Regions from separate parts of the Homo sapiens genome. Here region 2 is linked to region 1. Evidence: fine-mapped expression QTL. A gene starts in region 1. The other region holds a variant in brackets. All regions are shown on one strand. Distances are between the middles of the regions.

The links.
Region 2: its variant is fine-mapped to the expression of ABHD2 in whole blood (TOPMed, PIP 0.98).

What each region holds. Positions count from the first base shown.
Region 1 is chr15:89,084,595-89,093,592 of GRCh38, forward strand. ABHD2 (abhydrolase domain containing 2, acylglycerol lipase) reads left to right here and starts at 3,862. Exons shown (of 11, transcript NM_152924.5): 1 at 3,862-3,969. It overlaps LOC124903573, which reads right to left. Exons shown (of 7, transcript XM_047433432.1): 3 at 7,582-7,647; 4 at 6,541-6,689; 5 at 4,241-4,338; 6 at 3,474-4,092; 7 at 2,967-3,347. The coding sequence ends at 3,133. RefSeq lists enhancers at 2,625-3,270, 3,881-4,060, 4,002-4,521.
Region 2 is chr15:89,128,389-89,137,386 of GRCh38, forward strand. All of the region lies in intron 3 of ABHD2 (abhydrolase domain containing 2, acylglycerol lipase), which reads left to right. It also overlaps the pseudogene HMGB1P8. Among named protein-coding and RNA genes, the nearest start is that of ABHD2, 44 kb to the left of the region's middle. The variant C/T (reference allele first, on the strand shown) is at 4,613.

The DNA.
Region 1 (8,998 bases):
GGCCCTAAAACTGCTTTAAAAAATAAAGTCTATCTATATTTTCTAAAAATCCTGAATCCTGTGATCACTACTTCTGAGGGCTAGAACTTAGAAAATGAGTGAGGACCTTAGAGGAAGGTTCTGAAATGGGCTCCTATAATAGCTGTGGCAAACATTTATTAAACATTTTTAGGTATTTGCCAGGTACTGTTTGATGCACTTTGCATCTGTGAACTCATCTGCCACTCAAAGGACCCCATGAGACAAGCACTTCACTGTCCTCTGCGTTTTACAGAAGAAAGTAGGGCACAGAGATGTGCTGTACTCGCCCAAGGTCACAAGGCTAGGAAGGATGGAATCAGGATCCAATCCCCAGCAGTAGAGCTTCCAAATCCCCTTTCTCTGAACCATCCCCCGAGGACACAGAATAACAAAAATGACAAACTGAGTGAATTGCTGATTTTCCTTAAAAGAATAAATAGAACATATTATCTGCTCCAACCACTGCTCCCTGCTGTCTCCCAGAGTACCTTGACTTTCTCAGGTTAGTAAATCCTGCAGAGGCCCCAGTTGAGTTAGAAGCAGTTCTGCTTTAATGAAGTCCTGCAGCTTTGGCCATCCCAGAAGGTGACTGGGGCATACCCTCTCCCTTGTTCTTTTTTATTACAAGGTACTGTCACGGTTTTGAAAATTCACTTTACAGCCACATCCCAACACCTGCTTATCTCAGGCCAAGGCTCACCAAATCCTCAATCCCAACGGGCCACTAAACTTGAAGGCAAAAATAAGTCCATTTTGTCTCCTAAATGGCCTCCCTCAGAAATGATTTATAGAATGAAATAATATGATTAAACAGAATATGGCAAGACTGCAAGCAGAAGGGAGGAAACAGAAACCAGAGACAATTAAGGAAACAGTTCTGTGTGCTGGGAAATGATAATGGATCATTCTTTAAGCCTGCCAGAGCTGCAGAGAAGATGCCCGGATCCTTTTACTCTTCCTCCTCTTCCTGAGCTCAGTCTGTGCCTCTTTTTGAGCCTCTGTGACATAATTGTGTTTTAGAATTCCTGAACTGGAAAGATGTCCTTTTCTGGAACTGGTGGCTGAACCTATGTTCCTGAGATGGGAGAAAAAAGCCATTTACACAATGGCGAGCCCATCTGCAATCTACTCCTAACAGCTGCTTTTTGTGGCTCTGAATCAAGTTGGAGAAATCATCCTGGATCTCAGGAGCCACTTCATGCTTTTCAGGGCCTAACAAGACATCTCACTTTCCCTTAGCAAACACAGGCAGAAGCAAACCTGTATTGGGCTGGGCCTATTTCCGTAACATGCATGCAGCCATGTGTATGGCTACCAAGCAGCACTGTTTAAAGACAAGAACCAGAAAACTGTGGATCAGAACCAAATGTGTACATAGATATGTGTACACACCCCTCCAAAACTAGTGACAAATCTTTTTTGTTTTTTTTTTTCTGAGACAGAGTCTCACTCTGTCATCCAAGCTGGAATGCAGTGGTGCAATCTCACTGCAGCCTCTGCTTCCTGGGTTCAAACGATTATCCTGCCTCAGCCTCCTGAGTAGCTGGGATTACAGGTGTGTGCCACCATGCCCAGCTAATTTTGTATTTTTAGTAGAGATGGGGTTTCACCATGATGGCCAGGCTGGTCTGGAACTGCTGACCTCAGGTGATCCTCCTGCCTTGGCCTCCCAAAGTGCTGGGATTACAGGCTTGAGCCACTGTGCCCAGCCTATTTTTTAAATTATTATTAATTTTTAATTGACAAAATTTGTATATATTTATGATGTACAACATGCTTTACTTATTTATGTTTATCATGTTATTATGTTTATTTGTCAAACAAGGTCTCACTCTGTGGCCCAGGCTGGAGTGCAGTGGTGCGATCACAGCTCACTGCAGCCTCAACTTCCTGGGCTCAAACAACCCTCCTGCCTCAGCCTCCCCACTAGCTGGGACTACAGGCATGCACCACCACATCAGGCTAAATTTTAAATTTTTTGTAGAGACGGGGTCTCACTATGTTGCCCAGGTTGGTCTCAGACTCCTGGGCTCCGCCTCAGCTTCCCAAAATGTTGGATTACAGGCGTGAGCCACTGTACCGGTCCATGTTTTGATACATGTATACATTGTGGGATAGCTACACCAAGCTAGTTAACATATGCATTACCTTATATACTTATCTAGTGATAATCTAAAGCTCTTTTTTGGAAGTCCAAACTGTTTTAACTCAGAGTCAGGACGATGGGGTTCATCACTAAGAGACTTTGCTACTGAAGCCTGGGTTTTTCTTTTCCAAGATGAAAGAGAATACAGAGGAATATATAAACACTGAGATGAAACCTTTTTTTTTCAAGGTAACATGACAACTGAATGAAAAATAGAGCAATGGCAAAGGATTCTTTCTTCTCCTTCACTCTGATGTACCATGGCTGTGAGTTCTTTCAAAGACAGACACAAAGGGTCTGGGGCTACATTCAGGCCTGAGAAGCTATTTCTGTCCACACTCTGTGATGTCTACACCTTCAGAATGGGGAATGGGTTTCAGGGGTCTCTGACAGATAGAGCTCATGCAATGATTTCTGGTCCGGTGCTGATCAGCCTTCAAAGGATGTTATTTGGTTACGCTCCATAAAACTTGAGCCAGCCCACTGTTCCTTGTCACAACCTGAAATATGTTGGGAAAAATTTACATGGTAACAAATGCCACTTCCCTTCTCTGACTAAATCGCTCCTCTCATTTCATCCCCTGCTCCCTCTCTCCGAGCCCTATGGGGCCTTGGTAGGGTGGCCTTGTCTGCCCTACAGGGGTTGCATTTCAAGTCGCTCAAGTGTTCTATTCTTGGTACACGACATGCCATTGCAAAAGCAGTTTCAGGCTCATAGAATTTTAGAAATGGGCCTAGTTTCCCAGCCGGATGAGGTGAGTGGGTGATGGGGGAAGAATCAGCCTTGATTGAATGCCTGTTGAGTGCCAGCCACTGTTGGCATTTATCAGAGTTTATTTAATCTTCTCATCAACTACTATTGTTACCCTCAGTTGCCAAGTGAAGGGAGCATGCGGGAAGGTTAAGTGACTTGCCCAAGCCCACACAACCGGTAGGAGCCCCAATTCCAGGCCCTAGTTCCAAGGCTACATTCTTCCAGGCGGCCTCCAACTGGGTTGGTTAAGGGTTGAAAGGACAGTGGGACAATAACTGAGGCCCGTATTGCCCAGAGCGTCCCCATCCCCCGTCCGGAGCTGGAAGAGGCCATAGACCGCTGCCTCCACATCTTTTCCTCTCCTTCGGGTTCGGTGACTCACGACCCTTCTTCCTCTCTCCCGGGATATGACCTCAAATTTCACCCCTGCGAAATTTGAGTACACGTGAGTCAGTCAGTCGGCCTGGACCCATAAGAGCCCCAGCTGAGCTACCAGCAGCTGAGCTACCAGCCGACCTCATTCCTCTGAGCCCAGTCGACAGCTGACCTTACCCAGCCCTCTAAAGCAGTTTGCGGTCACAATTACCCGTCTCTTCACCCCGCCCCCATCGACATCAAACACGACCCACCTTCTAGCCCTCCTCCCCTTTCCCCGCCCACTCCGGGCTGGCCTTATCCAGTAGCGTCTGGGTCCCTGGACTAAAGCCGTCAAATGTAACCAATTGCTGAGGAGCTCTCCCCTAAGAATCCCGCCTCCACTCTGAGGAACAGCTTCGCTGATCAATGGATCCCCTCCTAGACGCAATGAGCGCGCGGGGCAAGTGGAGAAGCGGCTGAACTGCCCAATGAACAAGCGGTTTCCGTGGTTAGGGGCGTGGCAGAAGCGGTCGTCAGGGGCGTGGCGGCAGTTACTTGGGCGGGGCCGGTAGCGGCGGGAGCTGCACTGGCCAGGGGTTCCGGCTGTATATCCATGAGCGCCGCTGGCAGCCGGGGAGCTGCAGGAACCAGACTGGGGGCGAGCTGAGCACCTGTAGTCAATCACACGCAGGTAAAGCCACGGCCGAGCGAGCTCCGCGGAGCGGGGATCGCACCCCGGACCCGTCGAACCGAATCTCCGAGCCCCGAGGTCCCCGGCGTAGCTCGGCCCATCACGCCGCAGCCTGAGGGGATCCTGGGGGGCCTGTCATCTGGCGCCGTGGGGGTCCCAGGGGCTGGCTTGCCCAGTGGTGGGGACAGCCCAGATCGCGGCGGGGGATACGCCTTCCTGAGGCCCTTTGTCCCCTTCTGCCCGAGGAACCGAGGTTGGGGACAACCCCGACCGCGGCCTTTCCCCCATTGGTGCTCACTCCTGGGTCTTCAGGGGCCTGGGGAGGGGTCTGCCGGTTCAGGCTCGGCGAAGAAGGTCCGGGATCCGCACCTGGAAGGAGAGGGCCGAGGGGCCTGATTACAGCCCGAGATACCCGAGAGGCCTCTGTGTTTCGGGGCTCCAGGGGCTCACGCAGGACCAGTGGGTTTAAGTTCTAGAAAGGCAGCTTTTGACCCACTTGGAAGCACATTTACCGAGTTCGGCCCCGCGACCGGCACTGTTCTAGGCCCTTCGTGAGCTTTTCCCACAGCTAGAGCTGTCCAGCAGCGCAGGAGGCTGCCTGCCAGGCCGGGCAGCTAGCGCCTCGACCTTGGCGATGTCCAAGCAGTGGCCTGATGACAGCCACCTGTGTCGGATGCTTAGGACTCCCAAGGGAGGACTGCATGACCCATCTGTAAGGGCCTTCTCTACCCACAAATGCACTCTAAGTGGCCTTTGATGCCTAGCTTGAGAAGAGTACTTCTGGGGGTCCATTAGGTTCCAAGTGGCTGTTGAATTCACCCATAATGAATTTTGAGGTTTCAGCTCTCAAGAGTGGGTGTTAGCAAAGAGACTGGATTATACAAAAAGATAGAGGTTTATTTAGCCACTGTGAAACTCCTTGTATTTGAACTACCATGGACCGCTCTCTTAATCTTCCCAATCTCTCTTTTTTGGTTGCTGGACCTCCAGTTTGTCAGTTTCACCTGCATTCCAGTAACCAAATCCAAAGGCATGTTCCAAGAACAGGCTCCACAGAGGGACCTGGAGAGACTGCAGGTTTGGCAGAGTCAACAAGATCTGTGCCCAGAGCTTTTCGAAGGCCGTTTCCTTACAGCCACATTAAGCAGAGTCCAAAAGAGAAATCCTTCACTACCCTCTGTCATTTGCCGGAATAGAGAGAACATAATAATCTAAAGGTCAGGAGGCAGAGAAAGAATCTTAACACACCTTGCTGTGTGTTTTAGGATGAATTAATCTTTGAACATCTAGTCAGAAAGCAGTCCATATACAGCTGGTAGTCAGCACGGACTGTGACATTTTAGAGCTGAAGGCACCTTAGATAGAGCTCATCTCTATCTAAGTCTAATTAGGTGGACTCTCATTCAGTCTCCTCAATGCACAGGTGAGGAAACTGAGGCCTGGGGTGGTCACAGGGCTGGTTGGTCATCACAGGCCCATGACTAAGGGTTGATCTCTTGACTGTATTTAGATCTAGCCAGTGCATGACTTATTTCACTCCAAGCTTAGTTTGCCCATTCTCAGTGTTTTAAGTTCTAGGGGAGTCCAGAGAGGTTAGGAGGACAGATTTTGGTGCCTGAGTGCCTGGATTTGAATCCCAGCCCTGCCTCTTACTGGCTGTACAACCTTGGGCAAGCTACTTAACTTCTCTGTGCCTCTGTTTCCTCACCTCTAAAACAGAAATAATAATGATACTTATGTTAGAAGATTGTTTTGAGAAGTGCATGGAGTTACTACATCTGAAGCATTTAGAACAGTACCTGGCACAGGGTAAGCACAATAGATTTGCTAGATATGATATTCTGTTGCCTTTTTGTACATTTTTCTTCATATCCACCACCCAATACTCTATCAAGAGCTAATTTTTCCCCCAGTCCCCTTCCCCCCACCCCCAAATTCATTTAACATATTCCAGATTTCATTTTAACACAGACAGCTGCAAGGGGTTTCCAAGTCACGTTGCATTTTATACCTTACTTATTTTTGTGATTCAGGTAATTTAGTTTCTATGTTAGTTCCCCCTTGCAGTTACATTCTTCTTAGGCTCTGAACCCTTTAAAATTATCGTTAAAAGCAGGCAGTGAGGGGTGGGAATCCCTCGAAATGGTAAAGTCCTGGATGATACCCGTGTCCATGGTGTCCTTCCAAATATGTATTCCCTCTCTTCAGCCCTCCTCCCAAGCGATGAGTGTGATGCAGCTTGATTCTAAATGGATGAACATTTTTAGATTAAGATTTTATGAGCCACTGTATTAAGTGCTTTTCGGAAGTTCAGGGATCATGTGTCAACTGCATTTAAGGAAGTTACTTAGTCATTCGAATAGGGGGAGCACCAGCAGCGCCTGCCTGGCCTGGCAGAAGCAAAAGTGTGTGACTGATCCGTGCTGGCAATCTAGCTGGTTCACTGGTTTATCTGTGTTTTTCCTGTTCTTTTCCAAAGCTTGAAATAAACCAGATGGCAAGTACAAGGGAATGGTCTTTTTCCTCTCATTTTAGTCAGGGTCGTTCACTTTTTTCCCTTTTTACTCTCACCTTCATTTCCTTTATCGCCTGCGTGGGTCTGACAAATAGGCACTCTCAGTGTGCCAGCCAATTCCCTTTTGATGAAAAGATGCCTGCCACTTTCATTTTTTGCAGGAATCCAGTCACCTTTGATTTTCTCTTCTGTTTTTACTTGTTTTCTAGATTGAACCAAAGATTATCACTTCATTAAATGGCACCTTCTCATGCTTTATTTTTCTTGAGTTGATTCTGAATTTCGGTTTTTGTTTAAGCTGTTCTAGAGATCAGCCATTTTAGAATAATAGTTTTCATTTCTTTGCTTGTGTATTAATATGGGCCCCTTTCTCTCTTTCTCACTCTCTTTTCTCAGTATTTTGGTGGATGAGCTTCTCATTTGCTGTTACTCGTTGCTTTAAGCATTTACGCCTTTTCCTGGTAATCTCCGGCAGGACCCATAACCTCTGTAGTGGTTCTCACTGCCCTTGTTCAGAGCTCCTGCCCCGAGCAGGAAATAATTTCTTTGGTCTTATGGGAGACAGGGGTAGAGTCTGTCTTATTTTTTGCCTAAAATCTGGCTCTTTTAAAAGCCCCAGGAGAGAGACATTTCCAATATAATTGAATTTTGTGTGGCAGAATTTCTACCATGACCTACAGCTTACAGTATTCCCATTTTTATTGCATTGTGAGTTTTGAGTACTCCATGACCAGTTTCAGAGTATAGATGATGTGGGGCATGAGTTGCTTTAGCCTTTCTGTTTCATCTTGGGCTAAGCTATCCCCAGGAACAGAGCAATGAGAAGTTCAGGGTGCCTCTTAAATGTGTCTGGTGTCAGGATTTTATAGCAGCTTTTCATGGTTCAGCCTTTTTGGCCAGTGCATGAGTAGGACATTTTTAAGCCCTGTGCTGCTGTTTCTTTGTTGATACCATACAGATGCTACATTATCTCCTTTCAGGATTTTCATATCTGCAGATTGATTTTTGTTGTCTTGTCCAGGGCATCATATTTTTGGATTGAATGTTTTCTGTTTGTAAAATGGTTGGTGTGGACAGACGATAAGCTCCACCATTACCCCTGAAGCTTGTGGACTGGGGCCATTTGGGTGAGGGGCTTGTTACACACCGACTCATTGTCTGATCTTTCACAATAAATAGCAGACAGGTGAAGAGCTTTTTAGAGAAGTGGAACGTTGGTACCCTTGGATTTGCCTGGTTTCTGATTTTCTTTTGTTGTCTTTAAGTGGAGGTTCATTAAGTTCAACAAATTAAGCATCTGGTGTGTGCCAGGAACACAGTTGACAAGATTAACAAATTAGTTTGGTTTGTTGCTTAAAAACTATTTTGTTTTAAAATTGTTTTTAATAGAAATTTTAAAATTTTTTAATTCAAATTTTAGTTTTTAAAAATAGGCAATACATTCACATGATGAAAGAAAATTTTTTAAAGGCACAAAAGGTTAACTAGTAAATACATCTGTGTGTACCCCTGACCCCTGATCCTCAGAGGCAACCAGTATTAGCGATTTCTTCATCCTCCAGAAGTGGTCCCTGAACTTCCAAGGGATTTTATACATCTGTAAGCAAATTCGTTAAACATATTCTGTACACCACCCCTTTTTGCAGAAATGGTAGCACACTGCATACATGCTATTTGGAACCTTGCCTTTTTCACTTAATATTTCTTGGCAGTGTGAAAAGAGCTTCCACGTCATTTTTTATGAAGGCCGTCTATTTTAGATATCTGTTTTCTGTTTCTAAGGATGCTAAAAAACAGTCTTATTTAGGCAGCAGCTTTGCTGGAGATCTTAAAGATCTTGTGAATATTTGGAGGCAAATATTTTTCTTTTCTGTGAGAGCCCGGGGGAGGTGCAGGGGAGCTTCTAAAGGTCAGCTGAGAAGGGAGAGCTGGGGCACTGGAGAGTGAGGAACGCATTGGTCCTTGGGCCCTTCTTCGCCTTGCCGTCTGTGCAGAATGTGCTAGCATTTCCAGGGAAAGTTTGCCGTTTGCTCTCTGTTCTCCAGAGAAGCTTCCTGGCCTCCCCAAGTCACATTTCCAGCATCTTTTTTCATTCTTTTTTTTTTTTTTTTTTTTTTTTGAGACAGAGTCTCACTTTTGTCTCCCAGGCTGGAGTGCAGTGGCGCAATCTTGGCTCGCTGCAACCTCTGCTTCGCGGGTTCAAACGATTTTCCTGCCTCAGCCTCTCAAGTAGCTGGGATTACAGGCACACGCCACCACCCCCAGCTAATTTTGTATTTTTGGTAGAGACAGGGTTTCACTATGCTGGTCTCAAACTCCTGACCTCAGGTGATCCTCTTGCCTCAGCCTCCCAAAGTGCTGGGATTACAGACGTGAGCCACCGTGCCTGGCCTCATTTCCAGCATCTCTGTTGCATTTCATCCCGTCTCCTGCACCACAGCATCACTCCATTTGTCCTGCCTTTGGGCGTCCAAGAGGAAGCCTGCCCTTTGTCACAGCACTTTCTGTTTGGGT
Region 2 (8,998 bases), 44 kb after region 1:
TGTCCTTTTGTCCTGTGGGCCTTCCAACCAGTCAGCAGGATAAGAAGGTGGTAGAGGCCTTGCTGCCATTGACACATATCCACGTTGTCAATGCTTTGCCGTCACCACAGCTACTCTATTCTTGTCTCCTAATTCCATGGATCTTCATTTGGCTAGACTTTGATTGTCTCTCTTGTAACTCCCAAAAATGATCTTGGTGCTGCTTGCATCATGTTTGGCCCTGCTACCCAGTCTGCCCTTTGCTCACTGTGCCCTTTGATTTTGTTTGCTAATGGGTTTTGGGCCCCATCACTGGTCTGGTCTCTATAGTTGCTTCGTGGCCAGCTCCTCACCAGGTCCCTATGCCACGATCTGGTGAGCTGAGAGCTGTTTGATTGTAGCAGAGAGCCCTATGGTCTGTGGGGGGGAGGAAGAGGAGATCAGATCACGAGGAGTCTCTAATTCCCAGAGAGGAAGAGTTTGGGCTTGATCCTGTGAGCACTGGTGGTAGGTGGTTGGAAAGGGAAGGATGGGACAAATTCCAGAGGTCTTCTAAGGTGGAATCAGTGGTATTGGTGGGTAATGGAATGGCCTTGGGCATCAGAGGAAAGGGCTGAATCACAGATTATGCTGAGGTTACTGAGCGGTTGAGAGAATAGAATCATTGACAGAAATAGGGAAGTCTAATGGGGAAGCTGCTTTCTCAAGGAAAGTTGTTTAGCTTGGGGCTTGTCCACAGGATGTGCACAGGGTTATGTGCAATTATGGCATTAGAACTTAGGTGGGAGCTCAAGACCAGATGTGTAGATTCCAGATCAGCTGCAGGTAGGGGAGGTTGTGGGGGTGGGCAGAGAGAGACACTAAAGACTGATGGCTGAGGCAGGCCATGGCTAGGGTGGAAGAGACAGAGACAGGCAGTAAGAAAGGTAGGGAGAGAACCAGCAGCCTCCAGTTCCATGGCAGCCAGAGAAGGAAAACATTGAAGAGGGTGTCAGAAACTCAGGAAGAATGAGGGCTGACCAAAGGCCATCTACCTTGGCCAGAAAGGATCAGGGATTTTTGAGAATGTGTTTTCAGGAGTGAGGTGAATAAACAGGTCAGCACAATAGCAACCAAAGAAGTGAGTCAGGAAACAAACACCAGAGAAGGAAGGAGAAAAAATGGAAACTGGAGGAGAAAGCCAAATTGATTGAAGGTTTTTCCCCTAAGATTGAGAGGGTAAATCCAGGGGCCCAAGTGAGAGGGTGAAGTTAGCGAGCTGTTGCCCCCCGGGAATCCAGAGTCCAGATCAGCAGTGAGACCCACCTGGGCTCAGATGCCAGCCCTGCCCCCTGCTGGCCAGTGGCTTCACCTTGCCGAGCTTCTATTTCCTCATTTGTAAGATGGGTATAATAGCACTTATTTCATAGGTTCAGTATGCTGATTAAAAAAAAAAAAAGAACAGCATGTAAGATGATTTATAGGATACTTGGCATGTGTAAGAGTTCAGTAAATATAGCTGCTATTATTGTAGCTATTTTTATTTTAATATTATCAGCTAGATCAGTTGTACAAATAGCAAAAGACATAATGTACACGAAGGTCACACAAGCACACCTGAATGTCAGTAGGACATCAGTGGGTAAGTGGGTAAAAGATGTGCCTAGATAAATTCCACATAAGGAAATACATGTAATAAGCACCTCATAATGTTAAGACTTGGTAACAATGAAGCCTTAAAACATGAAATATTATTTGATATTCAGAGGAAAATATGGCAATATTGTCAAAATTATATTAAGTTGGACATCGTATTAGTCGAAGTAAACTAGTTTATACTGTGGTAACTAATTACCTCTAAACCTGCACATCTTAAAGCCACAAATGTTTATTTCTCACTCATGCTACGTGTTTATTTCAATGGGCAGGAGGGCTCTGCTGATTGTCATCCCACCAGGACCCCAGCTGATGGAGGTGACATCTCAACACCTGCTTCCGTGGTCATCACCGAGCCAGGAAGAGCAATGTCACACCTCACACACTGGCTCTTACAGGCTGCTACCGGAAATGGCACTTGGTCATTTCCTTTCCCATTTCATTGGTTTGGGTGTCCAAGGGAGATAATACAGTCATGGGTTCTCAGTTTCTGTTTCTGGTTGGTCCGGTAAAGCCCCTTCCTCATCCCTGTTTTTTGCTTATCACTAGAGACAGAAACTACAAACCATGGCTTTAGGCTGCTAAAAGCCTACAAAAGAAACAGAACAATAACAACAAAATAAGGCAGGTTGGACAAGCTTGAGAGCTTGTCCAGCCCATAGCCCACAGACTGCATGTGGCCTGGGACAGCTTTGATTGCAGCCCAACACAAATTCATAAACTTTCTTAAAATATTATGAGATTTTTTGTGTGATTTTCTTTTTCTTTTAGTCCATCAGCTGTCATTAGTGTTAGTGTATTTTATGTGTGGCCCAAGACAATTCTTCCAAAGTGGCCCAGGGAAGCCAAAACATTAGACACCCCTGGTTTAAAGCAAGGCTCGTGCCCATGCCTAACTTGAGAAGCAGCACACCTGTGTCCAGAGAAGAGGAGAATAATCATGGCCACAGGCAGCAGCCTGTGTCACGTGGGCCTCCTTCCTTCTGTCCTTCACTCCATCTCTCCTTCAGTGCCTCTGCTTCACTGCAGGACGTCATCAGCTTTCACCTGGAAGAATGCAATAGCTTTCCCTCCATTCTCTACCCTTTCTAATTGATCTTGCAGGCCACCAAATTATCTTCCTAAAGCACAAATTCATCATGCCATGCCCCTGCTTTAAACCAAGTGGCTCCTCACTGTCTGTAGGGCGAGGTCCAGCATCAGCCCTCGCTCCTTCTTCCCTATATTCCTTGTGTTCTAGACACATCAGATCTCTCCACATTTTCTCATACTGCATGTTCTCTCTTGACTATGTCTTACATTTGCAATGCCTTCTACCTGGAATCCCTTCATACCTCCACACAGCCTCTTTATTTGAGAGAACATAATCACCTTCTTTCTGATGAATGCTTTCTGGACATTTATGGTTCTCTTCTCTGTTGTCTGATAGCATCTGGTGTGGCCTTGGGATCTAGGACCCAGCAGAGAGGTGAAGGGGCAGGATGGGAAGCCCTTCCAGAGGGGAACAGGCACAGGGACTCCTCAGTGGTGTGTCCAAGAAAAAGCAAAACTGGTTTCTGACTATTGAGAGACTAACAGGTCCCCTAGAGTCTGGAGACAAATTGATGATTGGCACATAGAAAACTAAGCTGATGAGGAAATGATAAAAGTGATAACTTGAGGGAAAATAAAAAATTTCACAAAAAAGAATACAACATATGACTTCTTTGTGGCTAATATTTCCATAATTATAATTTTATAAACACTGAAAATTAACCATAAGTGTTGCTGTAACAGTGTTGAAAAGAATGGGCGAGGGGAAAATGTAAGTCTTAGGAGAGACGTAAGAGAGCTAGCACCCTCCAGAGTAGGAAGTTCAATAGGTGCTATTGAAAACTGAAATTGAAGAACCAGCATAAGCAGGATAAGCATGGCATTAAGAAATAAAGGCAAGTGTGGGATGGTAGGGACGACTAAAGGAGTTAAGAATAGTCATCTCTCAGGGGCAGGAGTCAGGAGACAGATGAGGCATCCTGTTGGACTTTTTAAACAGGAGTTGAAAAACATGAAAAAAAAATTCAAGAAAGATGAAAACAAAATATGTAAAGATGTTTTGCTGGCATTGTTTATTATAGTAAAAACTGGGAATAGCAGCATCCAACAATGGAGGCAGCAGCAAGATAATGCAGGGGAAAGAAAGAGCTGTCGGGTCAGACACACACAGAGTTCAAATGCAGGGTCCGCTGTGCAGTAGGCTGTTGGACACTCAGTTTCTGTCTGTAAAGGGGGTCCTAATAATAAGAATCGCTGTAAGGGACAAATTGAATTATGTAACATGCCCATAGAAGGGGCTAAATAAATGTTTGCTCCCTCCCTTAACTATAGCTAATAAACAGGATAGAATTTTATGCAGACGTTCAGAACTTAGCATACTAATTATCTATAAAAATAGAGAATAAGTGAAAAAAGCAGAAGACAATTATATATCTCTATCTGAGCACCATTGTTGTAACTATGTAAATACTCTGCTTTCAGATAGATATAGATGAAAAGGAAACAAAAATGAGAATATTTTTGCAAGGCTTGTGAGGATATGGGTGATTTTTAAGCTTCTAATTTCTTATAGCTATTTCAAATTGATATGAAATTAAGAGGACTCTGAATATGCATTTCATCTTTCATAGTTTTGAAAGCCATTATCTTGTTCATTCCTAATAATAAGCAGTGACACCAGCACTGTCCTTTGCATTTGTCCTTTATATGTAAAGAGAGATGGACTTTGCTTTAGTAGGACTTTCTAGAACATGCTTATCTGCATGGTTTGGTGGCGCTCTCTCACTTTGTGGACAAGATGAAGGTCTGGTGCCTAAGCTGGGGTTTCTCAAGGATGGAGTTGTTGACCATCTGAGAAAATGTTTTCCTGTGCCCACATACCGTAGGGGAGGGCTGCCATTTCAACAGGGCTAACCCACAGCCATCAACAGTGGCTTCTATCAGCTTTTTGTAACTGTTCCTCTGA[C/T]GGAAAGCTCCAGGGCAGCTGCATCATTTCCTTCCTCTTACATTTGTGCTCAAGGCTCACCCTGGTCAAGAAGCCTGGCTGCATTTCCCAGAGGTTCTTTTATCAGCCAGTAGAACCTATGACCTTGTACCCTCCGTGTTGCCCTTGCTGTCAGTCGGCTCTTGTTTATCCTTCCATCTTTTCTTTGTGAAATATCACTCAGAGATTTGTCCATAGGAGTGCTGAAAGAGCTTCCTCCATTTATGTCTTGACTGCTTCGTATTCCATAAAAAAATAGTTTGTTTAACCAGTCTCCTAGATAGAGGTTTCCTTTATTTGTAATCTTTTGCTTTCACAATGTTGCATTGAATGCTTCTGTATTTTCATCACGATGCGCACCTGTCAGTATAGGATAAACTCCTAGAGGTGGAACTACTGGGTCAAAGGGGATGTGCATGGAAAATTTTGCTAGCTGTTGTCCTCAAGCCTCTCCACACCAGCACTGTGAGCACATTTCCCCAAAACGTTGCCAACATCAGGAGTTCTACTTTTTGATATTTGCCAATCTGGTAGGTGAAAAATGTTTTCTCACTGTGGTTTTAATTAGTCTTTCTTTGATTAAAGAGACTGTGTATCTTTTCATATTTTAGAACTCTTTTTATTTCCTTTTCTGTTCACTGCCTGTTGGTGGCCTCTAACCATTTTTCTGATGGTCATTGGTCTTTTTCCTAATCATTTGAGGGAGCTCTTTATGTACTAGGGAAATTAGCCCTTTGTGATATGAATTGCAAATATTTGTTCTCAGTTTGTCATTTGTCTTTTGACTTTGCCCATAGTGGTATTTGCCATGCATAATTTTTTTTTTTTTTTTTTTTGAGACAGAGTCTCGCTCTGTCACCCAGGCTAGAGTGCAGTGGCGTGATCTCGGCTCACTGCAAGCTCCGCCTCCTGGGTTCACACCATTCTCCTGCCTCAGCCTCCTGAGTAGCTGGGACTACGGGTGCCTGCCACCACGACCGGCTAATTTTTTTTGTATTTTTAGTAGAGACGGGGTTTCACCATGTTAGCCAGGATGGCCTCGATCTCCTGACCTCGTGATCCTCCCGCCTCAGCCTCCCAGAGTGCTGGGATTACAGGCGTGAGCCACGGCGCCCGGCCGCATAATTTTTTTTAATGTTTGCATAATTAAATTTTTCAATTGTTTCTTTTGTGGCTTCTGGGATTTCTGGTTTCCTTAGAAAGGTCTTCTTCACTGCAAGATTATTTTTAAAAGCCTAGAATTTCTTCTAGCATATGAATGATTTCATTTTTATTTTGAAATGTTTCATCCTTCCAGAATTTATCCTGGTGTGAGGTGTGGCTCCAACATAATTTTTTTCAAGACGGCTACACTTTGTCCAACACTATTAAACAATCCATCTTTACCCCATTATTCAAATGCCACCTTTTTCACCAACTAAATTTCCTGGATGTATTTAGGCATATTTCCAGTCTTTTGTGTTCTGTTGATGGTCCTGAACATATACCATCAGCAGATTGCAGCTTTGTACTATGTTTTGCTGTGGGCAGTGGGGCGATGCTCATACCCCAGCACTGCTTGTTTTCATACTTTTCTTGGCTATTATAGCTGGTTCATTTTTCCAAATGAACTTTAGAATGCTTGTTTAATTCCACATATAAAAATCTTATTATTTTTATTGTGTATCTCTTAAGTTTATAGGTAATTTAGGGAAAATTGACATGTTTGTGATGCCAAGTTTTCCAGTGCAAGTTCATTTATTCAAGTCTTTGAGCCCGAAAGAGCATTATAAAGTTTTCTTATCTCCTTTTCTTGATTGTGAACTCCCTGGGAGCAAGAATGGGGTCAAGTTTTGAGTATGGCTTATTAGTAATGATCTATATAATTACTGACAAAAGAAACATAATTTTCATTAAATATTTGTAGAACCTACTTTTTCCTAACATCATTGCTTGCCATTTTATGAGTTGTTTTCTGCACATCAAAGAAAGGCAAGATGTAGTACAAATGCTGATGTCAAATGTCAGCATTTTAATCCTTAAAGTCATCTCTTGATTGGTGTGTTCTTTCTTTATTTATTTTTAATAAAAAATTGTATTTGCTTAGAAGCATTCAGAATGTCAACAAAATGGCTACAACTTTTTCTTTTTTTTTTTTTTTTTTGCAATTACAGAGTGGTATTCACTTAACAACAGTCATTTTATATAAGCTGCATCAGAGACAACTGAAGATGAAAAAACTACCATCCCCATATATAACTAATTTGTGCCATGCACTAACAAGAACCTGCTTTTAATTTCCATGCCAGTTTACAATCCCCATACTGTACTAGGCAAGGTTGGTGGCTATTGAAAATACCACCAGGACAGGGATATCTAAAGACACATTTGGTAGTGTGTTAACTATACAAAAAAAAAAAGACATTGTACAGTTTAAAAACAAATCTTACACAGCCTTACATTTCAGTTTTTTTCTTTAAAAGGAGTGAGTTATGTACAGGTTAAATGCTTTATAGACGAGAAAAAAAACTACACTAGAACCAACTTATTCATCATCATCTTCATCTTCCTCCTCCTCATTCTTATCCTCTTCATCTTCCTCATCTTCCTCCTCTTCCTTCTTTTTCTTGCTTTTTTCAGCCTTGACAACTCCCTTTTTTTGCTGCAGCAGGCTTTCCTTTAGCCCGATATGCAGCAATATCCTTTTCTTACTTTTCCTTCAGCTTCGCAGCCTTCTTTTTATAAGGCTGCCTGTCATCTGCAGCAATGTTATTCCACATCTCTCCCAGTTTCTTTGCAACATCATTAGTGGACAGGCCAGATGTTCTCCTTTGATATTTGGGCGATACTCAGAACAGAACAGAACAGGACAGAACAGAACAGGAAGAAGGCCGAAGGAGGCCTCTTGGGTGCACTGGGATCCTTTAACTTTTTTTTTTTTCTTTTGAGATGGAGTTTCCCTTTTGTTGCCCAGGCTGGAGTGCAATGGCGCAATCTCAGCTCACTGCAACCTCTGCCTCCCAGGTTCAAGCGATTCTTTTGCCTCAGCCTCCCGAGTAGCTGGGATTACAGACGCCCGCCACCATGCCTGGCAATTTTTTTTTTTTTTTCAGTAGAGACGGGCTTTCACTGTCTTGGCCAGGCTGGCCTCGAACTCCTGACCTTAGGTGATCTACCCGCCTCAGCCTCCCAAAGTGCTGAGATTACAGGCGTGAGCCACCACACCCAGCCTGAACGTCTTTTTTGTCTCCCCTTTAGGAAAGATACAGGTTTTCGTTTCTCTTTCGTATGGGCCCTGTCTGCCTTTGCCATATCTTCGAATTTTCCTTTCTGTTTAGTAGGCATGGTCTTCCACCTCTCTGAGCACTTCTTAGAAAACTCTGAGGAGTTGACTGAAGCATCTGGATGTTTGTTCTTATGTGCCTCCCTACAAGTTTGCACAAAAAATGCATATGATGGCATTTTCTCTCTTGGCTTCTTAGGGTCTCCTTTGCCCATGTTTAGTTATTTTTCCTCAGCAAGGCACAGAATTGCCCAGTGCCCATCTGGCTCTCACTTGCCCCAGTGCTATCTCTATGGAGCTCATTGTACTGCAATGGCTGTGATATCGGGAGCCAGGTGCAGCCTCCTCACTCTCTCCGCTCTATAACATTGCTCTCCAGCCAGCGCAGCTCCTAGTTGATTAGCGTGTTCTTAAAAGAGCATTCTGTGTAGGTAATCCAGGGGCTTCACATTTAGGTATTTGAGTTTTCCTCCACTAGGAATAGTGGCAAATATAATGTGATTTTCCAGCTCTAATCTTCCCTCCCCATAACGCTGGCACAGATTTTGAGGTAGCCTTGGCCTGGGAAGTAGCCAAAAGGCACTGTGTTGGACAAAGAGCAGACCATTGGCATCTATGTGCATGTCCTCAGGAGAGAGGTGACTAGGCAGATGGGGACAAGACACGGGTGCTCTGTGTTCTGAGCGTCAGCGTACATCCTGTTTGGTTAGCACAGAGTGAGTCTGGGAACTTTGCACTTAGCACCTTGGCAGCCCAGGTCTGGGAATAGTGGTGCCTTCTCCTAAAGTTAGGTCACTAATCTTTGACTGGCTGTTTGCAGGACCAGTTCTCTAACGGATCCAGGGTTCCAGTGGAACCCTGGAGACTGGAACTCTGGAGCTTCTTAATAAACTGCCTCCCTACTTAAAGCATGGTGTCAAAACCAGGTTGAAATGCAACGTGAGGAGAGAGGACTGTGCTTTGGTGTGCCTAGGGAGGATGTGACCAGTTCCGCGTGCTGTTTGTGAACAGGAAGATAGTGGGATCAGATGCATTTAACATGTGGATACAGTTCTGAGGGGTTTTAACTGGTTTTCTTTGAACTTTAGAAAAGCACATTTATTTTT